Linked DNA regions of Homo sapiens. The main gene of each other region encodes a partner of the protein of the gene in region 3 in a complex. Each region holds a gene or a part of one and is shown on either strand. Other genes may lie near its edges. The genes, in order: DRC4, DRC3, DRC9 and DRC8.

The links.
Region 1: DRC9 (region 3) and DRC4 share a complex: the UniProt entries of both Homo sapiens proteins name them as parts of the nexin-dynein regulatory complex.
Region 2: DRC9 (region 3) and DRC3 share a complex: the UniProt entries of both Homo sapiens proteins name them as parts of the nexin-dynein regulatory complex.
Region 4: DRC9 (region 3) and DRC8 share a complex: the UniProt entries of both Homo sapiens proteins name them as parts of the nexin-dynein regulatory complex.

The regions. Positions count from the first base shown.
Region 1 is NC_000016.10:90,017,965-90,026,639, reverse strand, and holds the start of DRC4 (dynein regulatory complex subunit 4), read right to left. Parts: upstream 3,961-8,675; 5' UTR 3,919-3,960; coding exon 3,916-3,918; intron 1-3,915. UniProt on the Homo sapiens protein: Component of the nexin-dynein regulatory complex (N-DRC), a key regulator of ciliary/flagellar motility which maintains the alignment and integrity of the distal axoneme and regulates microtubule sliding in motile axonemes.
Region 2 is NC_000017.11:17,968,435-17,976,989, forward strand, and holds the start of DRC3 (dynein regulatory complex subunit 3), read left to right. Parts: upstream 1-4,427; 5' UTR 4,428-4,540; exon of another isoform or gene 4,541-4,665; intron 4,666-5,230; exon of another isoform or gene 5,231-5,319; intron 5,320-5,417; 5' UTR 5,418-5,528; intron 5,529-8,555. Other genes in the region: TOM1L2 (TOM1-like protein 2), read right to left, coding at 3,828-3,879. UniProt on the Homo sapiens protein: Component of the nexin-dynein regulatory complex (N-DRC) a key regulator of ciliary/flagellar motility which maintains the alignment and integrity of the distal axoneme and regulates microtubule sliding in motile axonemes.
Region 3 is NC_000003.12:197,887,975-197,894,974, reverse strand, and holds the end of DRC9 (dynein regulatory complex protein 9), read left to right. Parts: intron 1-2,215; coding exon 2,216-2,347; intron 2,348-3,427; coding exon 3,428-3,529; intron 3,530-5,260; coding exon 5,261-5,395; 3' UTR 5,396-5,898; downstream 5,899-7,000. UniProt on the Homo sapiens protein: Component of the nexin-dynein regulatory complex (N-DRC), a key regulator of ciliary/flagellar motility which maintains the alignment and integrity of the distal axoneme and regulates microtubule sliding in motile axonemes.
Region 4 is NC_000001.11:245,083,763-245,089,003, reverse strand, and holds the end of DRC8 (dynein regulatory complex protein 8), read right to left. Parts: intron 5,065-5,241; coding exon of another isoform or gene 5,036-5,064; exon of another isoform or gene 2,245-5,035; coding exon of another isoform or gene 2,210-2,244; exon of another isoform or gene 1,760-2,209; coding exon 1,644-1,759; 3' UTR 1,167-1,643; downstream 1-1,166. UniProt on the Homo sapiens protein: Component of the nexin-dynein regulatory complex (N-DRC), a key regulator of ciliary/flagellar motility which maintains the alignment and integrity of the distal axoneme and regulates microtubule sliding in motile axonemes.

The DNA.
Region 1 (8,675 bases), on a different chromosome or scaffold from region 3:
CCTCTGCTGTGGATGCAAAACAGAGGAAAGACCCTCAATACCACACTGCCAAATGTTACCATGCTGGCGGCAACATTGGTGACCACCATGGAAAAGACCTGCAAGACACCATTCAGTAAGCTTAGGGAGAAATGCCTCCATAACCACGATCGGTTGTGACAACCACAAGTTTCCTTTCTTTCAAAGAGAAACTTCCTTCAGAGAAGCCTGGTCAAGAAAGCTTGGGCAGACAGCACCCACCACGAGAGCCCTGTAAATGGGCTGCCAGACGGAACTGCACATGGCGTCGTGCGTGGTTTTAGCAACTTTGACAAGGATGGGAGAGAACCTTCTAACCCCACCCCCTTGTGGAAGTTGCTGAAACCACGCATGACACCAGGAGCAGTTCTGTCTGGCCACCCATTTACAGGGCACTCAAGCAGGTAACAAATTTCCATATCCTATCCTGCTGACTTTGCTACTCCCAGTAGTCTTCAGCCCATGCTTTTCTGTGTCTACATGTCTCGGTAACCTTTTTTAAAGACAAAGTCTTGCTCTGTCGCCCAAGCTGGAGTGCAGTGGTGTGATCACATAGCTCACTGCAGACTCCAATTCCTGGGCTCAACTGATACTCCCACCTCAGCCTCCCAAGGAGCTGGGACCACAGGAGTTCACTGCTGCTGTGCCCAGCTATGTAACGTTTTTAAAATTACAAATTTCATGTGGAAATTTTATTTATTTTTTAAAAACATTAAAACCTAAATCCATTTATCTTTTTTTTTTTTTTTTTGAGATGGAGTCTCCCTCGTCATCCAGGCTGCCTTGGCTCACTGCAACCTCCACCTCTTGGGTTCAAACAATTCTCCTGCCTCAGCCTCCACGAGGAGCTGGGACTACAGGTGCCCGCCACCACGCCTGGCTAATTTTTTTTTGTATTTTAGTAGAGACGAGGTTTCACCATGTTGGCCAGGCTGGTCTTGAACTCTCTTTTTTTTTTTTTTTTTTTTTTTTGAGACAGAGTCTTGCTCTGTTGCCCAGGCTGGAGTGCAATGGTGCGATCTCAGCTCACTGCAACCTCCGCCTCCCGGATTCAAGCCATTCTCCTGCCTCAGCCTCCTGAGTAGCTGGGATTACAGGTGCCCACCACCACGTCCGGCTAATTTTTTGTATTTTTAGTAGAGACGGGGTTTCACTATGTTGGCCAGGCTGTACTCGAACTCCTGACCCGTGATCTGCCCACCTAAGCCTCCCAAAGTGCTGGGATTACAGGCGTGAGCCACCGCGACTGGCCCATTTATCTTCATTTATGTTTCATTTAGTCCTGAATGAAAACATTAGGTGGAGCCAGGCACAGTGGCTCACACCTGTCATCCCAGCACTTTGGGAGGCTGAGGCGGGCGGATCACTTGAGGTCAGCAGTTCAAGACCAGCCTGGCCAACATGGTGAAACCCTGTCTCTACTAAAAATACAAAAAAATTAGCCAGGCGTGGTGGCGGGCACCTGTAGTCCCAGGTACTCGGGAGGCCGAGGCAGGAGAATCGCTTGAACCCAGGTGGCAGAGGTTGCAGTGAGCCAAGATCATGCCACTGCACTCCAGCCTGGGTGACAGGGTAAGACTCTACCTCAAAAAAAAAAAAAAAAAGAGAGAGAGAAAATATTATGTGGAAATTTTAGAAAACACTGATGAGAAGAAAACAGAAATATCACCCATATTCCTTGGTCCAAGGATCCAACAGACCAAGGCCCATATTCCCACAACCTAACAGAAACAGAAGTAGTTTGGTTGTGTTTAGTGTTTGCTGTTGTGTTTGCTGTTGCATTTTTTTGTTTTTTGTTTTTGTTTTTGTTTTTTTTGAGATGGAGTCTTGCTCTGTCACCCAGGCTGGAGTGCAGTGGTGCAATCCTGGCTCACTGCAACTGGAACAGGAATTAAAAGAAATTAAAAAGTGTGTAAGCAGAAACTCAGTTATATATAAGAAAACCCAACTCCCCCTGAAAAAGAGAAAGAGCTGGAGTCCTTTAAAAATTAACTGCCTGTTTTTCTGCGGCTAGTGAGCCTTGTCTCTCCTCCCTTCCCAGGCATTGTGAAGACCCTGATTCTGTAGCTGTGCGGCTGCAAGGTCACTAGGCAGATAAACTCAAGTCGCAAAACATGTTTTTCCTTAAAAAGTAAGAAATGATGTAATGCATGTTTCAACTGAACAACTGCCTTTATTTCTCACATCTGAAGCATGCTTCCCCCTGCACAGATCTCCCTCTGCCCCACGAAAAGCTTAAAAGGTAACTTAACTCTTTGTTCAGGGCTCAGTCCTTTGGATTTTAATCTGACTGGGCCGGTGCACCTAAATAATTAATAAATATCCTCCTGAACCCCATCGGTCTCTCTAATTCCTTAAAAATCCCACTACACAACCTCTACCTTCCAGGTTCAAGAAATTCTCCTGCCTCAGCCTCCCAAGTAGCTGGGACTATAGGTGCGTACCACCACACCCGGCTAATTTTGTGTGTGTGTGTGTGTGAGTGTGTGTGTGTGTGTATTTTTAGTAAAGACAGGGTTTCACCATGTTGGCCAGGCTGGTCTCCAACTCCTGGCCTCAAGTGATCCACCCACCTTGGACTCCTAAAGTGCTGGGTTTACAGGCGTCAGCCACTACACCCTGCTTTTTTTTTTTTTTTTTAAGAGACGTGTTGCCAGGCTGGAGTGCGGTGGTGCGATCTCGGCTCGCTGCAACCTCCGCCTCCCAGGTCCAAGTGATTCTCCTGCCTCAGCCTCCCGAGTAGCTGGAACTACAGGCACACGCCACCACACCCAGCTAATTTTTGTATGTTTAATAGATATGGATTTTCACCATGTTGGCCAGGATGGTCTGGATCTCCTGACCTCATGATCCGCCTGCCTCGGCCTCCCAAAGTGATGGGATTACAGGCGTGAGCCACCGCGCCCAGACTCCTGGCCTAGTTTGGTAGTTTCTTTCATAGTCGGTTTTCAGAAGACCCTTCCTGGGTCAGAAAACCCATCTACTTAAATTTAATTCGTAATGTACTGCTCTCTTTTTAATCCCTCCACTCCAAGAAGGCTACCTCATCACAAAGCCCTGAAGGCAGTGGAGGAAGGTTCAGCATTACTTAGCATTTGGGACCTTCACAGCCAGCTGCAGGGACTTGGTGGGGCTCCCAGAGCTTTCCTCCCCCCACCAGCTGAAACCCACCCTGCCACACCTGCCCAGAAATTGAGTTACTGACAATTCCTGTACCACAAAGGGAGAGCCCTTTACAAGAGAAAGACAGACATGGAGCTGATGAGGCCACGAGCTCCGCCTTCCTCTTCTCGGTCTGGGCCTGACTCCTGCCAGGCTTTCCAAGGGAACAGTGGTTCCTGTATCCCAAGGTTGTGCCCTGGGCACTCCAAGGGCACTGGACCTGTCCGGGCCTCCTTGGTGTAGAGGGATCTCTAGCCACTCTGGTGTGCCCCAGGCTCTCCATCCGGGAGACCAAAGGTCTTAGGGTAATTCCTGCCTCCGGCTCTATTCCATGGGGACCCTGGTGCTCTGCAAAGCCTCGTGAGCTGAAACCCTAGGTCCCAGGGATCCAACAGACCGAGTCTGCCATTCCAGGATGAGAGTCCCCTTGACGCATGTTCACTCTTCTGGGGACCGTGCGCCGCCGACCCCGGGCCCTGGGCGTTCTATGACCACCCCTGTGAGCACAGGGCTCTGGACAGCCCAGGTCTCAGTCCCGAGTGCTGCCAGGCCCCGGGGCCGGGAGCATCCTGAGTTTGCCCCACGGAGACCCCCACAAGAGCACCGAGCTCTCAATTCCAGAAACCCAGCGCTCCAGGCCTCCCATTCCCAGGGTCTCCGTGTACCGAGGCCTCCCTGCCCCGAGGTCTCCGGGCCCCTGCCGAGGACCCCAGCCCCGCTCCCGCCCCTGCTCACCATGACGCCAGCGGACAGGCCCAGCGGCGACTCCGGGACCAGGGCGCCCGCCCCCGGAAGCCACGCCGTTTCCCGGCAACCGCTGGGCGATGCCGCGATAAGTCACAAGATCCTCGCGAGACTCCGCCGGGCAGCGGCCCTGCCAAAGGCGGGAGTGCGTCCCTAGAGACGGGCGTCCGGAAGGAACCCGGTTGTGAACGTTGGGAAAATGTCGCCGGCAGCCCAGAAGCCTTTCGCTGCAGGGCATGTTTTGCTTATTGCTGGAACCTAAGCTCCACGAGGGGGGAACCCTTCACTTCTATCCTTCAGCGCCTAGAACAGCACACAGCACGTGCTCAGTAAAGACGTGCTGATGAAGGACCATTGAAGGAATGATCAATCAGCCACCCAAGCCTCTGAAACTTTCCCCAAATGAGATTCAAATCTGGGCAAACACTCTATCCCCTGGGCCTCACTCACCCCACCCGCCCACCTTTGAAGGGCCCTCCCAGCTGCTGCGCTGGTGGGTTTACACACACCTCAAAAACGCAGAAATCGGAAAGAAAAATACGTTCCAGTTTAGTTCCAAATGTTTGAAATCAGTAAGTATTCCTTTCACAAAAATAAACTGCTCTTCCTGAAGAGGCCTCCTCCCCACTCCTCACGGATGAAAAGAAACCAGAGGCTTCCCGACAGGCCCTGCAGAAAACAAACAGCTGCCACTTTCCTTTTCTAACTAATCTCTTGTTCTGAAAACTGCTAGCCATTTTACAATTTCTAAAATGAATCTGCCATCCGTGAAACCACCCTGTTACCTACATACAACCATCTATGTCACCCAGAAAGCTGAGTTTGTCATAAACAGGTGCTTTTTTTTTTTTTTTTTTTTGGAGACAGGGTCTCCTTCTGTCGCCTAGGCTGTGATCACAACTCACTGCAGCCTCGACCTCCTGGGCTCAAGCAATCCTCCCACCTCAGCCTCCTGAGAAGCCAGGACTACAGGTGTGAGACACCATACCCAGCTTTTTTTTTTAAGTTTTTAATAGAGACGGGGTCTTGCTTTATTGCCCAGAGTGGTCTCAAACTCCTGGCCTCAAGTGATCCTCCTGCCTCGGCCTCCCAAAGTGCTGGGAGCACGTGAGCCCCACGCCCAGCCCTAAGCTCTCATCTTTAACATCTTCTTAAAAAGTGGTCATCTACTTGGGAGGTTGAGGTGGGAGAATCGTTTGAGCCCTGGAGGTGGAGGTTGCAGTGAGCCAAGATCACACCACTTCACTCCAGCCTAGGTAACAGAATGAGACCTGAGACCCTGTCTCAAAAAAAAAAAGAAAAGGTCTTGTAGCAGATCTTGTTCTCCCATGTGTCTGGGGATGAAGAGTACAGAATCCATGCTCGTAGAAAGTTGTGCTGGGGGCAAAGTGTGAGAAATGAAAGAAGGCCTGGTGGACCTAGGTCTTCCTGTCCAGCTGGGGGAGGAAGTTGCCACATGAGCTGGGTTTGCTCAGGCCTCAGGCACCCACACAGTGGTGGGAATCTGAGAACCACTGTGATGAGAGACTTCCTGTTTGCCCACCTAAGTCCTGATTGTTCTTGGAGAGGAGCAGCCAGTTGGAAGAACTGCATTGGCTCAGCTTGCACAAAGCAGTGATTTATTTATAGTAAGCCCTGAGGCCTCTGTGAAGTCTGGCTGGTCACTGTGCCTGGGCAACCAGGAGCCAGCATCACTGTGCCAGACTCCCTTGGCCTGAGAGGGGCCTCCTCCCCCTGGGACAGGGTGGTCAGACAGTGACGCTGGAGAGCACAGTGGGGGTAATTATTATAATTTAACACTTACTTCACAAAACCAATATGCTAGCAGCTTCATGCTGATTGGCTTTTTGCTTCAGAAGTCTGGATGAGTGTCCTGAATTAAATAGCTGTATTAACAATAATTCCTTTCAGCAAAAAGGGCAAGAATAGGAGGGTTAGCTCAGGATAGCCTAGACAGGGTACTCATTTTTCACAAGCTAAGAGCAATCCTGGTCTGTCGGTGTGGGCTGCAGAGATGAATCATTCAGGGAGCCCTGAATTGCGGCTCCCTGGGATCCCGACAGGGCCCACTGCGACCTGTTCTTTTCATATTGAATTCGAGTTCAGATTTTTAGAAAAGAGCCTTTTCTTCACATATGTGGCTTAAGATACTTTCATTCAGTGTCAAGCTGTGCAGCTCAGAAACCCAGATAAATGGCATCTGAGTTTCCTGCAAAATCCCAGAGCAAATGTTAATACAAACAAACCGACTGCCCTCTGTCTGATGTCTGATGCTTCCTGCCACCCACTATCCACCAGGTAAACCGCCTCAGGCCACGGCATCAACTCAGTGAAGGCCTGGATGCTGGGTTAACAAGAGTGTTTATGAAGACTAGACTTTTTCTTTTCTTTTCTTTTCTTTTTTTTTTTTGAGACATACAATCATAGCTCACGGCAGCCTTGGACTCCTGAGCTCAAGCTGTGCTCCCACCTCAGCCTCCCAAAGGGCTGGGATTACAGGCATGAGTCAATGCTCCTGCAAACGGACTTTCTTTGAGAGATAAATATTGAAGTACTTACAAATGCAATGATCTAATGTGTATATAATTTGCTTCAAAATGACCCAGCAGTGGAGGGAAGTGAATGAGGACAGAGAAGCAGTGGCCCAGGCCAGGAGCTGGCAATCGCTGAATCTGGGCGATAGGGACATGGGGGTCAGTTTCATCGAAACTGCCTTGGCGCTCTCTGCAGCCCGGGCCCGCCGCCCTCTCCTTACCTCCCATCCCCCATCCCGCCCCTTCCAGCCTCCCAAGCACACGCCCTCGCCCCCACCCGCCCCCCGCGTTAATTCGCGCCATCCAGGGCGCTCTGTGAGTCTGTCATTACCCAGCGCGAGTCAGGCCCCTCCTGTGCCCCTCGCCAGCCCCGAGGGGCGCCCGCACACAGTCGGCGCCCCACACGCAAGTACCTGGAAGAGAACAAGAGGACGCCAGCGGGCGCGGCCGCCAAGTGAGTGCGCAGGAGCCCCGGACGCCCGGCCGGGGTCGGGAGGGCGCAGCCAGGTCCCGGTGGTGTCCGCGGCGGGGCGCGGCCCGCGAGGGAAGGGTCGGCGGGGGAGGGGTCCGCTGGGCCAGGGGCCAGCAGGGGGCGCGCGCGGGCCGGGGCGGGGCCGCACCTGTCCTGCGGCTGGGGGGGCGCCGGGAGGGGGCCGGGGCCCGGGAGCAGCTGCGCGCCCCGCCCCGCCCCGCGGGCTCCTCCCTGCCGCCGCGGCCCCCCGGTTGCTGCCCCGATGCGCTGCGCCCGGAGCCGGGGCCGAGTCGCTGCCGCAGCTGTTGGGGCGCCCGGGCCAGGCGACGCCGCCGTCGCCCGTGCCCCTCCCAGACCGCACCGGCCGCATGGAGCCCCCGGAGGGCGCCGGCACCGGAGGTGAGTTCAGCCCCAGCCCCCGAGACCCCCGCGCAGCGCTTCCCCGCAGCGAGCCGCAGCCCCTCCCCCCAGGGCTCACCCTTCGCCGCTCCCGGGAGTCGCGAAGACCCCTTTGGCAGCTCGGGGTCGTCCGGCGGGCCAGGGGCACCTCCCGGGCGCGGTCCCCGCGCGGGGCTGGGGGCACACGGACCGAGTCTCCGCCCCCTTGTTCTCTGCGCTCCCGGCCCGGGAAGCCGTGCCCGGCACGCTCCTTGGTGGGTGGCCCGGAGTTTCGTCCTGAGCCCCCTCCCAGCCAAGCCAGCCGGTGACCCGGGGAGCGGGGGAGGGGGGTTCCGGGGCTGGAGTTTGGGGTCCCTGTCGGTGGGGCGTGAGGGCGACGCTGGCCGCTTGCAAGCGCGTCCGCTTTGTTCGCCCAGCCGCGAGTCCCGGGGGGCGAGGGCCGTAGACTCGCGGGCAGGGATCCTGCCAGGGGCGAGGGGCTGAGATGGGTCTTGGGGATGTGGGGCATGCACGGGCGCGGCCTGCCGGGGACTCCAGAGCTGCAAGGGTGGCTGGTCCGGGAGTGGCCCAGGCGCACGCTCATCGGGGAGGGTAGGTGCGCGTGGAGCGCTCCCTGCCCTGATGGTGGAGGCCCTACTGCAGGACCTTGGAGTCGGTAACGGGAAGAAAGCTCTCAGAACCTCCCCCCTTCCCGATCAGAGACTTTTCCAAAAGGGCTTTCGGGGTTCCATTTGCCTAGGTAGGAACTTGGATGCAAACTGCAGACTCCTCCACCTGCCCAGCCAAGCCCACCACCTCCTGGTTTCCTAGAGCTCCCATTCCAGGGAGCCAGCAGGTGCCTGAGGGCACAGGCAGGCCAGCCTGCCGCTCTGGAACTACATGGGAACCTCTCAGTCCCCCAGCCGCACACAGTGGCATCCTCTGGAGCCCGAAGGGCTGTCCCCGGGAGGAGCAGGTCCACCCACCCTGTGTATCTGCAGTCCAAGGTATAGGGACAAATGCCCCAGGGCTGGTGGGTTTGGGTTTTGATTTGTCATTTGTGGGAGGGACCAGAGCTCTTTCTTAACACTGATAGTCCCAGGCTCCTGGGTATTCCCAGTAGCAGCTTTGTGGACATAGGAAGCCTGGAGGTTGGGAGTGAGGGCTTGGGGGTCTCCGAGCTGTTTCCAGCTGTGAACTGTGGGCAGTCAGGCCCCTGTGAGCCTCAATTTCCATTTCTGTCAGTGGAGACAGTTCTGCTTCCCCTGCAGGGCTGTGGGAGCCCAAGGCATTTGGGAGTGGAGGTTAATATGTTTTCCCTCCTCCTTTGGGAAAAAAGGAGGACTTCCCAGCAGCTTAAAAGGCAG
Region 2 (8,555 bases), on a different chromosome or scaffold from region 3:
GGAGGGTGGATCACGAGGTCAGGAGTTCAAGACCAGCCTGGCCAAGGTAGTGAAACCTTGTCTCTACTAAAAATACAAAAATTAGCCCGGCACGGTGCCAGGCACCAGTAATCCCAGCTACTTGGGAGGCTGAGACAGGAGAATCGCTTGAACTTGTGGGGCGGAGGTTGCAGTGAGCTTAGATCGTGCCACTGCACTCCAGCCTGGGTGATGAAGTGAGACTCCATCTCAAAAAAAAAAAAAAAAAGAATGTAGTCTTTGATGCCACCCATCCAGAGCAGGGCTTCCTCCTGTGCCCAAACCCTACTTGCCACCACTCCCCACAGCCACCTCTGCTCCATTCAGACTGGTACTCACAGATGTGCCTGTGCCCCACTCCCTGCCTCATTCAGCTGTCCCTAGGCCCAATGATATTGTTTTCTGCATGCAGAGTTCCTACCCATCCTTTATGAACAGCCCTCAGACTCAAAGAAGCCAGTCCCTGTCACCCCAGCCTCTTCTGAATTGTTTCTGACTCCTTCAGCACTTACAATCTACACCACTCATTGTTTCATGCATCTCTGTCTTCTCTCCTGAAACCGTAAATCCATTGAGGACAGGGATCAGAGAGGGACCAGCTCTCCTTTTTTTTTTTTTTTTGGAGACAGAGTCTCACTCTGTCGCCCAGGCTGGAGCGCGGTGGCACAATCTTGGCTCACTGCAACCTCTGCCTCCCAGGTTCAAGCGATTCTCCTGTCTCAGCCTCCTGAATAGCTGGGATTACAGGCGCCCACCACCACACCCGGCTCATTTTTGTATTACTAGTAGAGACAGGGTTTCACCATATTGGTCAGGCTGGCCTCCAACTCCTGACCTCAAGTGATCCACCACCTTGGCCTCCCAAAGTGCTGGGATTACAGGCATGAGCCACCACAACCAGCCTACAGCTGCTGTTTTTAATCATTAGCTTTGTAGTTGTTATTTTATTTCTGTATTCCCCCTCCCTCCCACCAATCCCCCACCCCCGCACATTCTTTTAAAAGAATACTAACAACACTAAATATCAAGAAAGTCACTTTGACACTTTGTCACAACAGTACGGAATATACATTAGAACCTAATTCTGTCCATTAATCATTTACCTGAACTGAACTGAAATGACCTATTGGCTACCTGGCAGTGGGGAGCCATCATCATCTTTAGTCAAGCATCTTATGAGCAATGGTGAATCCTGGGGCCTGGTAGGGTATTTTCCTTCACAGGTCACAGACGGGCCAGTTGTTTCACATATCCTCTCCAGATAGAAAATCCAACCCTAACTTAAATATTCTGTTATTAACAGTGGCAGTTTCAATTTACTGAGCTTCTACTATGTTCCAGATACTATGCTAAGTGTTTTCATACATTATCTCATTTAAACTACATTACTCTGTGAATAGGAATCTTTCTCTCTCTCTCTCTCTCTCTCAGAAGACTGACAAACTAAACCTCAGAAAGCAACACAATTTTCTGGGGTCACACAGCCAAGAAATGGGGGCCAGGTCAAAATTCAACTTAGGTCTCCCTGACAGAAGTATCAAGCTCTTTCCACTTGCTATATATCCCTATATCTCTTATATTTGGTTTTTTGTTGTTGTTGTTGTTGTTTGTTTGTTTTTTGAGACAGAGTCTCACTCTGTCGCCCAGGCTGGAGTGCAGTGGCACAATCTCAGCTCACTGCAAACTCCGCCTCCCGGGTTCAAGCAATTCTCCTGCCTCAGCCTCCCGAGTAGCTGGGACTACAGGCGCATGCCACCACGCCTGGCTAATTTTCTTTTTTTTTTTGGATTTTTAGTAGAGACGGGGTTTCACCGTGTTAGCCAAGATGGTCTCGATCTCCTGACCTTGTGATCCGCCCGCCTCAACCTCCCAAAGTGCTGAGATTACAGGCGTGAGCCACCGCACCCAACCACATTTGTATTTTAAATCCCCTTTAACTTCTACCCCTCATTTACTACCTTGTCATTTTAAAGGTGTAGAGCTTCCTATTATAAAGGGGACAGAAAGGAAAACAATTCTCGCAAGTTTTCTGGCTCCCTCCATTAACTGGCTGGAAATTAGTTTTTGGAGTGTGGCTGCCATGCAAGAGCACCTGAAGAGAGTGGAAAAGGACATGGGGAAGAAGTAAGGAAGTGAGAATCCAGAGACTCTCCAGTGGGCAGCAAGAGACAAGATGTCAAAAAGGTGGGAAAACACTCTTTTGGGGTCCCTCATGCATTATAAAAGATACTACGCCAGAAAGTAAAGAAAGGCTCCTAAATGCTAATTAGCCAACAGGAGAGACCTCAATAAGTTTATAGGCTCCACTAAAGGCTGGAAAGTAAGCTAAAATTTCATAAGCAAAGCAGAAAATAAACAAATCACTACTGCTGAAATCAGGCCCATAAGAACACCAAAGATCCTGGCTCATAAAAGACGTTTTACCAGTCCTTCAACCAACCAGGAGGAATCCAGTTTTCAAACAAACTAATCAGCATTCTTGACTGATCAAGTGGCATAAGCCACTGCCTTGGGTAAAAAGGCAAGTTGCTTTCTTAGTAAGGAAGTCCCATATGGTGGCCATTTCAGTATTCCTTTACCTACACTTTGGGCTTTCCTTATCCATGATTCTGGCCATCTCTGGTGTCCCCAGGTGTCCACATCCCCCCTATAGGATTAACAGATAATGCTGAGTACCATTCTCTCTACATTGCCAACAAAAGATTTCAGCTTTGGTAAACTTAATATGAGGTGGGGGAGGAAGCAACAGTCAATGTGCAGAGTACTACAAAGAATATCAAAACTTGAGAACTTTAAGGGATCTATCACATCTCATCTCCAAACACTTTGACAGACAGGGGAACTTCAAACCAGAAAGGGCACAAGGTCATATGGAGTCACTGACAAAACCACTGCTAGAGTCCAGGCTTCCATGATTCCCAGTCCAGGGCTCTTATCATTAAATAACACAGCCTCCCTTCTTTCCTGGGAGGCACTGCAGGCATGCCATCCCCCTGCCAAGATAATCACCCTCCAAGAGCCCCTCCTCCTATCCCAGTCCCTCCTACAGCACAGCTGAGTTGCAGCTCAAATTAGCAAGTCCCGGAGCAGGGGGCATTTCTGGGAGGGTGCCCAGTCTGAGGGTTGCTGGTACCGAAGAGGAGGGACAAAGATGGAGAAGAAGGTGACATCCCACAAAGGGTTTGGGAGAACTGGGTCCTTGGGGCAGTGGCAGTGAGCCTGCTGGGCTGGATAAAGACACATGCAGTGGCATCTCCCAAAGCGCATTGGGGAAGCAGACCAGCAGTTGGCACCACCTCTAGCAGCAAAAGGAAGGGCTGAGCCTTGATGGGCAGGGAAGCCTGGGGCATCTCCGAGTCCAAGTTGGGCCTCAGGGGTGCCTCCTGGCAGAGTGGCACTGGCGCGCCCGTGAGGTGGCACCAGTGCCCGGGAGGAGGCCCGAGGACACAGATGCCCTGCCTGCCCGTGGGATAGCACCGGCACCCGGCGAAGGCCCAGCCCCCCCGGGAGGTGGCACCGGCGCCCGGCGAACGCCCGACGACCAGGATGCCCAACCCGCCCGTGAGGTGGCACCGACGCCCAGTGAAGGCCAGACGACCAGGATGCCCAGCCCGCCCGTGAGGTGGCACAAGCGCCCGGCAAAGGCCCGACGACCAGGATGCCCAGCCCGCTCGTGGAGTGGCACCCGCGGCTGGCGGAGGCCCAGCCCGCTCGTGAAGTGGCACCGGCGCCCGGCGGAGGCCCGCGGTCCTCACCAGCCGGATCAGCGGCCGCCGTTGCCCAGCCTCCTGCCCCACACGCGGCCTTACCGAGGCACTGCCCCACTGGTGTGCTGAACGGGTTCCCCAGGAGGAACTCCATCTTGGGTGGACAACACGCAGCGGCCCGGGCCCCCTGTCTGCCACCTAGGCCTCCGCTGTAACCCGCCGGACTCCCGTCCTGACTGACACTTGCCCCCTCCCCACTCTCTGGAACGCCGAGCTTAGGGCCTTTGGCCCCGCCCCCTTGCCGCGTCTCTATTGGGGGACACCTACGAAGCCCGCCTCCTATTGGTCGTTACACCTCTGTCAGCAAAGCCCCCACCCACCCCGCAGCGTCCGATTGGGCGGAGGAGCGAGCTAGGTCACCGGAGTCCCTGTCAGCCGTGGCGGCACCTCCCCTGGCCCGCCCCCAAAGGGGAAGCTGCGCATTTTGATTCCTCTGTATATTGGTCAATCTAAAGGATTCTTACTATTATTGGACAAAAGACGAGTCAATCACGCAAATGGACGGAACAGAGGTGAATCTAGGAATATCCCCGCCCATAGAAAGTACTGATTGGAGAAACATTTGTTTTCTCTACGGCTGGTTGGTGTAAGGAGTGTTTCACCACACGGAGATGTGGTCACGTGACTTGTCAACTTTCACCCAGGATGTCTCCCTTCTGACTTCCCCTTAGCAACCAAGTCGCGGCGCTTGGTTCCCCAGCAACCGGGAGACGCGTCTGCTGCGTGGAACCGCCGAGTTCCCAGCGCTTGAGAAGGTGAGACCTGGGAGCTGAGGCTCCCGGAGGACTTGCAGGGACAGATAGTGCCCGACGTAACTCTTTCCTGTGACCTTTTTCTCGGAGAACGCCGGCCCGGCCCTTCTCATTTATAAAATGAGCACGTAGGTCCTCTCCCAGCCACTTTACAGTCGTGTGAGACAGCCAAGACACTTTAGTCCTGGGCTTGTCAAGCTTTTGAATAAAAAAAAAAAAAAATACTAAGGAAGCATTTCCCGAGGGAGCAGGGCCAGAATGGATTTTTAAGGGGTTCCGTCTTCCAGCCTCCTTTCATAGAAAGAGAGGTACCCGGTCCACTGATAACTTTTCCCAGAATTTAGCCATCATAACTGACCTCATAACTATCAAATGATTTCATCTTGGTACTGTATATACCGCTTTGGATGTGAATACGGCTACTCAAGTTCTGTATCCGTCTCTGTCAGTAACTCATTGTACGACTTTGGACAAGTTCCTTTACCTCCCTGGAGCCTCAGGTTCCCTAGCTGGGAAATAAGGGCATTAGGACTCCCTTTTTATGGCCTCCGGAGCTTACATGTACTTAAATAATGCATGTGCACTGAGCACACAGTAAGCATTCAGTAAGTGATTGATTTTATTCTTTTTTAAGAAAAATTTTGTTCATTATTTATTTATTTATTTATTTTTTATTTTTAAAAATGGAGACAGGGTCTTCCTATGTTGCCCGGGCTGGTCTTGAACTCCTGAACTCAAGCAGTCCTTCCACCTCGGCCTCCCAAAGAGCTGGGATTACAGGTGTAAGCCATCTCGCCCAACCAATTTTCTCCTTATTAATTCATGGCCAATAGGGACTATAGTTTTCAGATCCTGTTGACTTCAGGTTATCATTTCCCAGGAAAATTCTGGATCTGTTATCTGTGAGGAGGCCACTCCGTTGACAGTTGTGTAAAACTCTGCTGCTTTCCCCAGCTCCAACCTCTCTGGTCTTCAACAACACTATCATCAGGCAAGTCAAAGGGGACCCAGGTTGGGTGGTAAACTATAAGATCCCCATAGAAGAGGACTGTTTGGGCCTTGGCCCTGAACCCAGGACAACTGTGAGAAACACTGTGAGCTGTGGCAATGATAGTCCCCAGTACCCTGGATACAGTTGAGTCATGATTAGGAAAATGAACTCTGCCACGTGCTAAGTGTATGAAGTTGGGCATGTTAATTAACCTTTTTAACTAGCTTCTGTTTTCTTATCTGGATATTGGTGAGTATTAGCCCTACATGTAAATTAAGTTTCTAGAAATTTCTCCCATCTACATCTTGCTAACACCCTGGTCATCTCTCACCTCAGTACTTTTGCAATTCTCAGTACTGTTGCTAGAGTGAGCTTCTTAAAAACTAAGATCTGATCACATTGCTTCCCTTATTTTTTTTATTTTTTGAGATGGAGTTTCGCTCTTGTTGCCCAGGCTGGAGTGCAATGGCACGATCTCGGCTCACCGCAACCTCCGCCTCCCGGTTTCAAGCGATTCTCCTGCCTCAGCCTCCAGGGTAGCTGGGACTACAGGCATGCACCACCATGCCCAGCTAATGTTGCTGCCCTTATTAAGCCCTAGGTGCTTTCCAGGGATTCTAGGATAATAACAAAACTCCCACAGACCTCTCCAAACTTGCATCACTTCAGCCAAAGTGCAACAAGTCTGTTCTCTCCCACCTAAAGGGCCTTTCCACAAAGTTACCTCCTCCTTCTTTCCTGCTTGTCCTTCCAATCAGCCCTGTCTTCCTTGGCCAGGCCAGGTGCCCCTAATGTACAATTTCATAGTTCCCTACACCTACAAATTGTCATGGTTTGTAGTTAAATATTTGTATTATTGTTTGATTCATGCCTGAAGCTGGGTTAAAGTCCGTCTGTTTTATTCACAGCATATAGCAGTTACTCACTACCCATGTGTGGACTAAATACGTGATCTCACACAAATGCAGAAGGGAGAAATTATCCACCTTTTACAGATGGGAAAGCCAAGGCTTAGATAGGTGAAGTGAGTTGCCAAAAGATGCACAGTCAGGATCCAAATCCTGCTCTGATGTGCTTAACAAATAGCATATGTAATAACAATCCCCCATTTCCTAGCATAGCAATTGCTGGGCTTGACTGAAAGCAAACTTGATCTGTCACAGGTACCAGGCCCTGATGAAGTAGGAGGGATAAGTCAGTTAAAGTTTTGAAATCAAAATTAAGAGTCATTTCCCAAAGTATAGCACCTTTTTTTTTTTTTTTTTCTTGATGGAGTCTCGCTCTATCACCAGGCTAGAGTGCAGTGGTGCACGATCTCGGCTCACTGCAACCTCCAACTCCCTGGTTCAAGCGATTCTCCTGCCTCAGCCTGTCAAGTAGCTGGGATTACAGACATGCGCCACCATGCCCAGCTAATTTTTGTATTTTTAATAAAGTCAGGGTTTCACCATGTTGGCCAGGATGGTCTTGATCTCCTGACCTTGTGATCCGCCCACCTCGGCCTCCCAAAGTGCTGGGATTACAAGTGTGAGCCACCGCGCCTGACCTCCCCACCCCCCCCCCAAAAAAAAGGCCAAACACTTTGCAGAAAACATCAGCCAAATATAACACATTAAAATTCCCCCAAAGACAAGTTGATGACAAGTTATGGGAAACCGCAGGGGAAGCCATTGCATAAGAGTGGGGAGCTAGAGAGAGGCCGAGGTCTGGAACTGTCTTTGGGGGTAGAATCAGTCACCCCAACGAGGTGGAGCCAGTGTGAACAGATTGGAGAGAGTGGGAGGAAAAGGACCAAGGTCTTGGGAGGACGGAAGGCACAGGTGGAGAAGGGGTAGGGGTTGAAGGGTGTGGAGGCTATGCCTCCCCTGGAAGCAAGAGAGAAGTGTGCACAAGAGCTCATTGGGACATTTGATGAGGGACAGTTCAGGGCAGAGGATGCATATTTGCAGAAGCTGCATCCAAGTGGATGGTCAGGGAGGCAAGAGGAGGGCAGTCTTAGAGGGAAGTCTCTAAGACCAGGTAACAGGATTGTATGGCCCAACCTGGCTTTTCAGCAGACACCATCAGCCCTGCACCAGGAGTTTCTCCAGCAGTGCCCAGTGGAATGAAAAACAGAGCACAGGGGCTGCCTAGCATCAGGGACCAGCAGGGCAGAAGGACAGGAGGTTCAGGGAGGCCCAGATGCTGGGAAGGCATGTAGACAAAGATAGGAAGTAGGGCCAGCAGGGAGGCAAGAATCAGGGGTGGAAAGTGGGGGAAAATATCCCTCCTGGATGTCCTCACCAAGAGGGTTGATAAGGATGAGAATGTGGTCCAGCCACGAACGGCAGCCTGGAGTCAGCCTCACATTGTGACTGACCAAATCTACAGATCCCCCCTGTGCTGTGGTGTCTCAGTCAAATCCCTCTGGACCATTAGCAACAGAATCTACTGGAGGCTGGGCACGGTGGCTCATGCCTGTAATCCCAGCACTTTGGGAAGCGGAGGCAGGTGGATCACCTGAGGTCAGGAGTTTGAGACCAGCCTGGCCAACATGGTGAAACCCCGTTTCTACTAAAAATACAAAAAATTAGCCAGGCGTAGTGGTGGACACCTGAAATCCTAGTTACTCAGGAGGCTGAGGCAGGAGAATCGCTTGAATCCGGGCGTTGCAGTGAGCTGAGACCGCGCCATTGTGCCCCAGCCTGGGCGACAGAGCGAGACTCTGTCTCAAAAAAAATAAATTAATTAAATTAAAAAATAACCTACTGGAGCTAGCTTAAGTAGAAGAGGATTTCATGTGAGAAACAGGAAACTCTCATGAGGCCTGGACCTAGGGACATTAGGGACTGGAAAGCCAGCAAGAAGGAGGCAGCCTCTGTCTGTGTCGATCTGTCTGTCCTTTGTCTTTTGTTTTCTGATTCCCAGGTTCCCATCTCTGCTTTTCTCTGTGCATCTGCCTCCTCCCCCTCTTGCTCTCTGCTTAACTATGTACCCAGCCAGCCCACACTCCCTATTCCTCCCCAGCTCAAGCAGCCAGCTCCGATG
Region 3 (7,000 bases):
GTAATCACCCTGCCTCGGCTCTGAGTAGCTGGGACCACAGGCGCCACCACACCTGGCTAATTAAAAACATTTTTGTAGAGATGGGGTCTCACTATGTTGCTCAGGGTGGCCTCAAACTCCTGGCCTCAAGCAGTCCTCCCACCTCTGCCTTCCAAACTGCTGGGATTACAGGCACAAGCCACCCCGCTCAGTGTAATCGCAATGATTGACTATAGCCATGTTTTTAAAAAATTCTATGCTATGTGCCACCTAAGGAACTTCTCAATGTTTCACTCTTGAGGTGCATCGTCCCCGAGTCTGAAAGTTACACATTTCTGTTCTTTTAGGGGTAACCTTTAAATTTTTTGTTTCTAGAAAGTACACAAATATGGAATGCTTCACGAATCTGTGTGTCACTCTTGCGCAGGAGCCATGCTAATCATCTCTGTATTGTTCCAATTTTGGTATATATGTTACTGAAGTGAGCACAACTCTTAAAATGTTAACATATATTTTTATACTTTTAGAATTTCTCTGTCGAGAGTTAGTCAATGTTTATACCTTCTTTTGCCTTTATTAAGGCAAAGAGACTTCACTTACCTCTTCTCTCGCTCTTCATCCCATGTTGAAGTCATTCACTTTATATGTAAATATATATAGTGATAATATATATGCAGATATTATGTATATATATGCGCATTGTGGGTGGACTTCACAAGGATTATTTCAGCATCACAACAACCCTCTGAGGTTTGTACTATGACTGTAATAGTAATACTGTATTATTGGCTAGGTATAGAATTTTATATATGAGGGAACCAGAAGCTTAGAGAATTTAAGTAAACTTTCTTTCAGTGCCAGAGTTGTGCTCTTTCAACTAGACTATCCTGCCTACTTTGGGATTTTAATTCTGAATTATGATTTATGATTAAAAACTATCACATAGCTTAAATACATGTTTTACTGGTTCTCTTCCATTTCTTAATATATCTCTTTCATTTTATTTTGCTACAGTAGTACATCCTTGAATAACTCTCTCAGAAATATTGAGTATAGTCTTTCTTTCCTTTACATTTGAATGCTGGGTTGGCTATGTGTAGAATCTTTGATTCACATTCACTTGCTTTTCTTTCTTTTTCTTTTTTTTTGAGACGGAGTCTCACTCTGTCACCCAGGCTAGAGTGCTGTGGCGCAATCTTGGCTCACCGCAACCTCTGTCTCCCGGGTTCAAGAGATTCTCCTGCCTCAGCCTCCCGAGTAGCTGGGATTACAGGTGCCGGCTACCATGCCTGGCTTTTTTTTTTTTTTGTAGTTTTAGTAGAGGCAGGGTTTCACCGTGTTAGCCAGGATGGTCTCGATCTCCTGACTCTGTGATCTGCCCACCTCGGCCTCCCAAAGTGCTGGGATTCCAGACGTGAGCCACTGCGCCCGGCCCTACATTCATTTTCTTTTAGAATTTTGAATACATTGTATCCTTCTTGACTAGGATTTAGTGCTGTCAATCAAAGAGAGATCCGATGCTATTCCTTATCCTTCAGACTTTTCTACATACCTTTTGTTTCCTCTTCATTGCAACTTCCCTTATCCAGACATCTAGATTACCCTCCTCCCCCTATTTTTTTTTTTTTTTTTTTTTTTGAGACGGAGTTTTGCTATTATTGCCCAGGCTGGAGTGCAATGGCGCGATCTGGGCTTACCGCAACCTCCGCCTCCTGGGTTCAAGTGATTCTCCTGCCTCAGCCTCCCTAGTAGCTGGGATTACAGGTATGCGCCACCATGCCCAGCTAATTTTGTATTTTTAGTAGAGACGGGGCTTCTCCACGTTGGTCAGACTGGTCTCGAACTCCTGACCACAGGTGATCCGCCCACTTCAGCCTCCCAAAGTGCTGGGATTACAGGCGTGAGCCACCGCGCCTGGCCCCCTATTTTAAAATTCACTAACATACAAGTAAAATGTGTAAGTACTTAGTGTATAGTTTGATGAACAGTTATGTATACACATTCATGTAACCACCACCTGGATAAAGATACAGAGAACATTTACAGCATCCCAAAGTCCCCCTCACCCCCATTCCCAATCAGAAATCCAACTCTCCACCCAGGTAAGTAACTACTGTTCTGCCTTCTCTCACTATGGAATGTTCTGCTTAATCTTGAAACTCGTATAAGTGGAATCATACAGTATACAGCGTTTTGTGTCTGCTGAATGCCATGTTTTCATGTTCTTTCCAAATAGAAACTTGAGGAGAGGCTGGAGTTCTGGATGGAGAAATACGATAAGGACACAGAAATGAAACAGAATGAACTAAATGCTCTCAAAGCCACAAAGGCCAGTGACTTAGCACACCTTCAAGACCTGGCAAAGATGGTAAGGAAGGAATTAGGGCGCTCACTGAGGACAGAGTGAAAGGAATTAGGGTGCTCACTGAGGAGGGAGTGGAAGGAATTAGGGCACTCACTGAGGAGGGAGTGGAAGGAATCAGGGTGCTCACCGAGGAAGGAGTGGCAAATAGGCCACAGTAGCTGGGTATTGCTATTTGGGGTCAAAAGTAGAGGTGCGCTTATAAGCCACCAGGATTCTTTTTAGATGCTGCTGCTGCTGACGGGGACAGCTGCAGTAGCTAACTTACGTAGTGCCTACTCTGTCCAAGGTGCTACCCACACAGCCCCTTGAGACAGATACTGTGATTATTCTTAGTTTATGACCTCTGGAGAGAGTCAGTGATGATTTCTAACAAGCTTGTGATTATGGTTTCATTATGGAATAAATGCAGAACTTCCTAAATTTCTTTCAAAAGTCAGCTACTGCTGGGCATGGTGGCTAACGCCTATAATCCCAGCACTTTGGGAGGCCGAGGCGAGCAGATCAGTAGAGATCAGGAGTTTGAGACCAGCCTGGGTAACATGGCAAAACCCTATCTCTACTAAAAATACAAAAATTAGCCATGCATGGTGGCACGTGGCTGTAATTCCAGCTATTCAGGAGGCTGAGGCACAAGAATCACTTGAACCCAGAAGGCGGAGGTTGCAGTGAGCCAACACTGCGCCACTGCACTCCAGCCTGGGTGACAGACAGAGTGAGACTCTGTCTCAAAACAAACAAACAAACAAAAAAGACAGCTGACTACTTGTGTATGTACATTCTCCCAAAGTTTAAAAAACAATCCATATTATTTTGAGATCATTGATCACACATTAATTCATATTTCATTTTTTATAAAAGATAGAATTTAAATTTGAATTATTAAAACTGAAAAAGTTTTGGGAACAATTATAAAGTTAATATGTGAATATTTACCATCTAGGAATCTATTACATTTTTTTCTTTGGTTTATCTTTAGATTGAGCATGTTTTATTTTGAAATTTTATATTAAAAGTGCAGGGCTGGCTGGGCTACAGCTTAGCCAAGAGAGTACTATAATAAATGATGAATGTCTATCTTTGCAGATAAGAGAGTATGAACAGGTCATCATTGAAGATCGTATAGAAAAGGAGAGGAGCAAGAAGAAGGTAAAACAGGATCTCTTGGAATTAAAGAGCGTTATAAAGGTAAAGAACCATAATCAGTATCTCGCCACAGCTGGCTTAACACTGAGGAACACAAAAGCATTTCCAATTCATTATCAAACACATCTCAGTATATCAAGGAACTGCAGATCTGAGAAGAAGCATGGACTTTTGTTATTATTAGAATTTGCCAACAGTCCATGGTGCAGGGAGACAGTTAACATAGAAAAGGACGTGCCCCCAGCTCTTCATCTGGGGAAAAAGAGGTGGTTAGCAGCGGAAGCAAAACCTAGGCCAAGAGACGAAATATCAGATTACTATGTCTAACCAAAACCAGCTCTTGACAGAATGATTCTTTTTAATATCCTTCTACTTCTTAAAATCCTGCTTATACATCAGCCCAGACTATCTGCTGGGTTCTGATACAAGCTGCTTAGGTGGGAAGGATAAGCAGCAAGTTAGAAAAAAATAGAGATATTTTAGTTTTATGTGAACTTGTGTGTCTCAGTGATGATGAAACTGGCAGGTCACAGATCACGTGAAATACTCGCAAGCAAAAACTGAAAGCTGGACGGCACCTGTCTGGAGCTGGCCCTTCTCTCTGAAGGTCGAGGCCCTAGTGGGTACACTGTAGTTTGGGTTGTATATTAGGGTGATCTAAAATAGTTAAGTTTTATACCACATTCTGGACCAGGTATCCAGACCCAAAGTTGGGCTTCCCATAAGGAGTCAGATGTGTAAGTAGCAAGTATTTATCAAGTTTCAATGGTGTTTCCCCATAAAACTTGTCAGTATTCCTGAATTTACAACAAACATGTTAAGAACGAGCTGAAGAGCACGTTTGCTTTCTTTTCACTAGTGGATTTGCTTCCAGTCTTTAGGGTTTAGTCTGACTTTAAAGCAGTAGAGACCGTATTGAGAACAACTGTTATCTAAAACCAAGATATTCAAGAAAGCTAACTAAATCTTTTTTAAAAGTACTAGGACAACTGATCTTTTAAGCAATCACTAAAGATATGAAATGCACAAGCAAGCCTATGAAAGTCATCTAGACTTATCTGTGCTTTTCTTTTTTTTTTTTTTGAGACAGCATCTCACTTTGTCACTCAGGCTGGAGTGCAGTGGCGCAATCTCTGCTCACTGCAACCTCTGCTTCCCGGGCTCAAGAGATCCTCCTGCCTCAGCCTCCCAAACAGCTGGGACTATAGGCACAAGCCACCAGGCCTGACTAATTTTTTTTCTTTTTTGTATTTTTGTAGAGACAGGGTCTTGCCATGTTGCCCAGGCTGGTCTCAAACCCTTGAGCTCAAAGTGATCTGCCCACCTCAGCCTCCCAAAGTGCTGGGACTACAGGCATGAGCCACCGCACCTGGCATTATCTGTGCATTTTTGGCCGAGTGCTTTTGCCCTTGGCCCAGGTAACTAACATTCTTTTTGGTTCAAATAGCTGTTAAGTATGGGGAACCTGGACTTTCCTCAAGGAAAGCAGTATAAGGAAGTCAGATTTCTACGGGTGAAGAAAAAATAGGTCAAATCAGATTCCTTTTCTTTATTTTTACTTGAGAACTTCACTCTTGAGTCCATGGCTTAAGCTCCGGGTCCTGCACGACAGGAGAGCATCGCTGAAGTGATTACGTGCCTGGCTACTTCCATGTCCTGGAGAGAGACTGTTTGTCAGACAGAAGTTACTTTATTCAACAGTCCCTTTATGTGGAAAGAATGCAGCTTGTCAGGCATAGCATACGTCGTACTCACTCCCCTTTTCTCTTCCAGCTCCAGGCCTGGTGGCGAGGCACTATGATACGGAGAGAAATTGGTGGTTTCAAGATGCCTAAAGACAAAGTTGATAGCAAGGATTCAAAAGGCAAAGGTAAAGGCAAGGATAAGAGGAGAGGCAAGAAGAAGTGACCAAGTTCTCTTTTGTGTTTTCTGCTGGTATTCTGGAGGTGGGAAGGACTTGGAGAGAGTTAAGAAACACCTGGTACCTCAAAGATGACTCATCTACAGGTTGTTTCCTATTGAGACTTTCCCAGGGAAGCCTGATTTCACTTTGCCTGTTAATTTCACTCTGCCTGTTAGGTGGGTTTTCAAACCCTGATTTAGGATTACACCATTGACTTAGGGCTTCCTCATACCTTGCTGGGAAGAAGTTTCTAGTAGTCCTGTGAAGATTCATTCTTCTTGCTCTTTCTCAGCAGAACAAAGGAGTTCACTGGCTTAGCTACAGTGACGCATTGAAACTTGAGTAATTCCTGTAATGTCAGATTTTGATTTTACCCAATTTGTCTGTAGTGAAAAAACTCTTATGAGCAAAAGTATTCAGTAGGAATTACAATATGATGTTATTAGCTGTCCAGCATAATATATACACAGCAAAGTTTTAATAAATGTTGGTTCCTGCCTGCCTTTTAGATTTATCGTCACTTTGGTGTTTTTATTCAGGTGAAAATGGCATGGAATACATATCCAGTTGTAAGCTGCTTCAGCAACTTTTCTAGGAAACAGGGATACAAATTATAAATACAAGCTAGAAATAGGATGTTAGGATATACAACTTTACAAACTATAAAGATGGGGACACAGGTTCTCTGGAAGGCTAGTTTGGAGATATTTTTGACAAGTGAAACACTAGAGCCACCAATCCCCACTTTATGGAGTGTTAAGATGAAAAGAAATCAGGTGTGTGAAAATATCTAACTTGTGCCTGGCAAATAGGAAAGCTGTCACTCTCCCTCTTCTCCTAGAAAAAAAATGCACCCACCAGATCATGCTTGCCTTGATGAGTCAAAACAATGCCTTGGGATGCTAAAGGTTTCCAAGAGCAAAGTTGTCCTAATGTGTCACATACATTTCATGAATTAAGCCTTCTATCTAACTCCAAATAAAGCTCAGTCTTGATATCTGTACTTCCTTAAAAAATGAATTTGATCTCAAAAGTTTGTCCCGAAGCCCCCATTTCCACTGACATTCCCTCTGGAAATGAGATGCTCTTTCCTTGATTCACCTTTGCCAAGGGAACCACACCTCAGGTATGAACACGCTCCAATCAGCTTTTATTACACGCCACTGAAGTGTTGGCTTTTATTTGAATGTCAATGTGTAAAGTGGCGTACAGGCAATTTAAAATAACATACATGATACTGACATATTTATACTTAGAACTTATGCAATATATTTACAGACAAAAATACAGGACAATGTTTTACAAAATCTTTCACTAATTACATGTTTACAACATTTTCAGAAATAAAACGAAATTTGCTGTAAACCATCTCAACTGCACTGTGTATATAGAAAGGCTTCTAAATATCCATGTTTTCATTTCTATAACCATTTAAGCGCTTAGTTTTTACGAATTCATCAAACTCATTCGCATAGTCACACATCATTAGTCACTGCTGAGCTGTAGAAAGTAAGAGAAATCGCAAACTCCTTGATTAGCTGTATTTTAAAAAGCTCTTCAGAAAAGTGATCTACTACTATGCTCTGTGTTCTAGCAGAATACAAAGGCCC
Region 4 (5,241 bases), on a different chromosome or scaffold from region 3:
GAATAAAGTCCAAACTCTCACACTGAAACCTTAACTCAGCACCTAACCCGATATCCTTAATGATACCGCTCCTGTTTACCACTCCAATTTCACCTCTCATCATGACCCCCAAATCTCCCACATTCCAAATATACTGAGCTGCTTTCAATTCCCAGGTGGTTCCATGTTTCATGACACCTCTAGGGTTTCTGGACTTGCTGCTCACCTGCTGAAATGCCCTGTGCCCCGCCACCCACTTACTAAACTACTCGTTTTAAAGTCAGGAGCTTCCTGTCCTGGGAAGCCTTCTCCGCTCACTAGCACCTTTCATCTTCCAGAAAGCTCTCTCCCTGCAAGGCTGAGTAGCTGCCTCTCTTCGGCACTTGCACGGGACCCTGAACATGCCCCTATCTGAAATGTGGCTGCTGACTGCCTTGCAGGCTTCCCTCACTAAACTGTGACCTGGATTCGTTAGGGACTCCGGTTCCCAGCACATCATCTCATGGTACTCCTTCAGTGTTTCATGAATGAATGAACAGCGACAGTCTCTTGGGTAGCAGCCGCCTCTTTTGGGGGCAAGACTACATGCCTGAGGAAGGCTCACAGCAACTCTAAATGTTTACATCTATGTAGATACACACATATAGTGGTGAAGCCATCTTCAAATAGAGACCCGTGTGTGTGTGTGTGTGTGTGTGTGTGTGTGTGTCTTGTTATAACAGAATATCTAAGTTTGGAAAATTGTTCACTTCCCTTTACTTTATCTTCCCCTTTGCTTGTAAGTTGCCATATAGTTGCCATATAAGATGCCAAGATCGGAGAGAATTGCAAGGAGGAGGCAGTGGCCATGCCATATATTTTTCCATTGTGACTGCTTGTGCTTCATTCTGCTCTTTCAGGAGCTGTACATTTGCACACCATAACATTTCTCAGTATTCTTACTCAGTATTCAGGACAATGCTCCCATGACAGATATGCGGAGTGGGTGAGAATTCTAAAGACAAAGGGAGAATTGCCACTACCTTACACTATCAACTTCCACTCAACCTTCTTTTCTCTAGTTCCAATGATCTCAACTCCTTTAGCTACTCCATAAATGGTGACATGCTGGATCAGCAAATATAAATGTTTACACTAAGTTATTATTATCCCAAATGATATTTGTAATTGGCACTCATAAAAAAATAAATTAGTAATATTTATTTTGATAAATCACCTTCCACACTCAGATTGATGAAGCATTTGTTATTGTTTAAAAAAGAAGCCTTCATTACACTGCTACTCGTTTTCGAGTGGTTCGTTCTGCCCCCTCTTAAGATCTTTACATGCCAAACCTTGGGTAATTAAGTCATTTTCATTTTGTCAGCTTAATTAATTCGAAGGTGACCTGAGTTTTATTGTAGAAAATAAACAACAATCCATTCTAATGTTAAAATGTTTTAAGAATAGTTTTTAAATAAATAGTAATTTATCATTCTGTAAGGCTAGACATACTAAATTTGGTTTAAAGTGTTACGATCATCTTTAAAAACAAAGTGTCTTAAAATAGTTATGTCACAAGGTATTAAATATCACATATAGGAATCCTAAGATAAGATGTGAAATTAACAAGAACAAGCAATTTCTAAAATTGTTCTTTCAATCAGAAATTATCTTTAGAACATTTAATTTTCATCTATCACCATCATTGTTATATAGTCCTTGTAATTAATTGAATTTGATTCTGGATCAATTGCAGCAGACAACATTTCTTCCATTTCCTCTTGAGAAAAAGGCTCACCTCAGAGAGACAAAAAGGAAAATTTATCATTTAGGATCATCTGATTTTTTTCTCTTTCCACTAGCCAGCTTAATAGCCATGGAGCCCCACAAGCTCCCACAGTGCCACTAGTTACGCTCCCTGGAGCTGTAGAGCCAGGACATCACGACAGTCCAGAGGTTCAAAGACAAGGCTATTGTACACCCTGGTAGATTCTGGACTTCTTTTAGCCTGCAGATGTCATAGATCAAGCAACCTCTAGAACACGTCATTTCAGGCAAAACAGTAGGAAGACATACAGACATCATGAACAAGGTTATTTATTTAGATTAAAACTTTTGAAATTACCAGAGGATTAACTTGAAGCCCCAGTATTTGATGAAAGATGGAAGGAAGATAACTGAGTGGTTAAAGCACAAGTTTGGATCCACATGCTGGCTGCCTCTCACGAGCTCTGAGATCTTGAGCAAGTCACTTCACAGCTCCCCACCTTAGCTTACCTGTCTCTAGAATGGGGGTGATAACGACACCACCTGTCACATAGGGTTGTCATGAGAATGAAACGTGTTATGATTTGAATGGGACTTAGAACAGTACCTGGCATAGAAGCAGCAACATGCAAGTGTTTGTTTAAAAAATTGTTCTGAGATCTTCCCGGCTGCTAAACACTGTCTGATGCAATACACATTCCTGGACACTTAGGGACTTCTATCTTGTAGGAACTTGATTCAGTGTGATTTATTTTATCATATGACATCCAGGGCTGTAGGAATGCATATTCTCAAACTAGTGTGTTTGATACTTTGTGGATATTAGGATGAATGTGCAAGTAGCTTGAATCCATATTGTTATATAGCATAAATGTACTTAAAAACAATTTGTAGAATTCTGAGACTCTCAAAGCAGCAATTCTTAAGCTCCTATTTTACCAAACTAGTCAACTGCTATTACACTTAGCTGATGGGTCTGTTATATTAAATCGTAACTTAGATTTGTATAGATTTACATCTTACATATTACTTCCAAACATATTGGTTCATATATGTGGAAGGTTTGTAATAATACTTGCTGAGTGAATAATTGAAAACATATGTATTCTTATTTGACCATACCTGTCCTATGCTTAGTCCGCTGAGATACTCAATAGTTGATCTTTAAGTACCATGAACTCTCTGTAAACATACCATTTTCGAAATTATCACACAGCACCTCCAAGTAAACCACGTGGTCGCACTGTCTCTGTATACACTGCGGTCTGTTCTGACCTTTCTGTTTGAGTCAGTCTCATTACCATCATACTCGCCATCGAGGGCAAAGCCTTGGTGGTACTTTGGATTCAGCTCTCAGCTTTGTCGCCTACACTCTGTTACTCATCATGACCCATGGATCCTGCCACAGACAGTCCTATTGTACCAATCCCTTCTTCCCATTGCCATTCCCACTGCCAGGTCAGGCCCTTATTTGGGTGCCCTCAAAATGCTGAAATAACCTTCTAAGTGGCCTCCCTAGTCCAACCTCTTTCTTATGCATCTAACAAACCGACCAGCACCAGAAAAACCTTCTCACAATCACTCACACACCATGTGAGTCATCTGCTCAAAAGCCTGTAATACTTCTCCATCGCCCACAGGATGAATTCCAAACTCCTGAGCCTGGGACTCCACAATTTAGTCCCAGTAAGTCTACTGAAGTTAATTTCCTGCTGTTTGCCAACATTACCCTCTGGGCCAGCTAGGCTTATTTTCTCTCTGAAATAGCATGTTCATTCCTACCTCCCCATTTTTGTTCAGACTGTTTTACACATCGATAATGTCTCCCTCTCATTAGCCCCTTCACCTGGTCTTCATCATCTACTCATTCACTCATTCATTCAACAAACATTTGTTGATATCTACCATGTGTGACAGAATTATAATGCACAAGAGTTTACCTTTGCCCTCAACAATTTAACCATATACATTCTACCATCTCAAAAAACCTATTTTCTCTTTAAGTCTTCCCAAACCAAGTTTTCCAGGCTGGGCCAGCCCTAGTTGATCTTCTGATATTTAGCTTTCTATTGTCTTGTATTGTGAATTATTTTATGTTAGTTTTATTTCCCAAATAAGATTGTAATATCCTTGAGAGAGGAAGTAGATTTAAGTATCATTATACCTTACTACACTTACTAAATATTAAACATATAGTAGGCACACAACAGTAGGAAAATCTAACTGTTTGGGCCATTTTGACTAAATTCATGTTGCCTGATATATAACCTAGGATTTACTTTCTTTAGACTAATCCTCAGGATGAAGAAGCTGATGCTTTGAAAGTCGTAACATCCCCATCAGAATTAATCCCGAAGGTAATTTTAACAATGGCGTCAGAGTTCTTGGGTGGCAGCTGTGACGGCCTTGCCATTCTGACCCTCACTCTCTGTATTCCGCCTTAAGGTGGATGAAGCTGGAATGGTCAAACCAGTTGTGCGTGTAGATGCAGTCTTAGTCTTCCCTACTCAAAATCACTTGCGCTTTTCATTCTGCCTCAAGTGATTAGCAACTCTGAGTCATTCAGGACCCAGTCTGTGAACCAGAGAGCTCTAGCTTTGTATGGGAGAAGGCAAGGGGACCAATATGAGGATGGTTTCAGGAGACTGTCCATCAGGCTACTGACCTTCAGTGTAAACAAATTTACACATCAGCCTAGCAGAGAGAATTCCTAAAGGAAATATGTTGGCATATATATATAAGTGTGCAGGTTTTATGTGTGTGTATGCATATATGTATGATGGGCCATGTTCAAAACAAATATATATGGTTCAATTAACATTAAAAAAGGACATTTTTAGTGTTAAAAATGACCTCAGTATTCAATTGAGGCTACATTATCTGTAACTTCACTGACAGAAAAGCTCTTTAAAAGGGAATTTTTACCAGCACTGTGGGAAGCCAAGATGGGTGGATCACCTGAGGTCAGAAGTTCGAGACCAGCCTGGCCAACATGGTGAAACCCATCTCTACTAAAAATACAAAAAATTAGCTGGGCGCAGTGGCCTGTGCCTGTAATCCCAGCTACTCGGGAGGCTGAGGCAGGAGAATCACTTGAACCCAGGAGGCGGAGGTTGCAGTGAGCTAAGATCGCGCCACTGCACTCCAGCCTGGGTGACAGAGCAAGACCGGATCCGTCTCAAAAAAAAAAAAGCCGGGGCGCCGGGGGGGGGGCGGAATTTTTATATTCTTTATTCAAATCTTCAATCTAGGAAGAGGCCTTCATTTACAGTGATCGATAGTTCATGTTTTCCAGATGGCATATCTTTTATTCTGGAAATGCTCTGAATGCAATGCCTGAAATTATAGAAGTAATCACTGTGCTTCACAAAATTCTACGAGACAACAACCCATCTCCCCTTTCCCTACTCTTTGTCCTCTTAACCCCCACAGAACAGAAACCATCCCCAAGCCAAAATAGCAGGAACAGTAAATAACTTTCACCAGAATGACTGATTTTAAAGTATCCCCTAT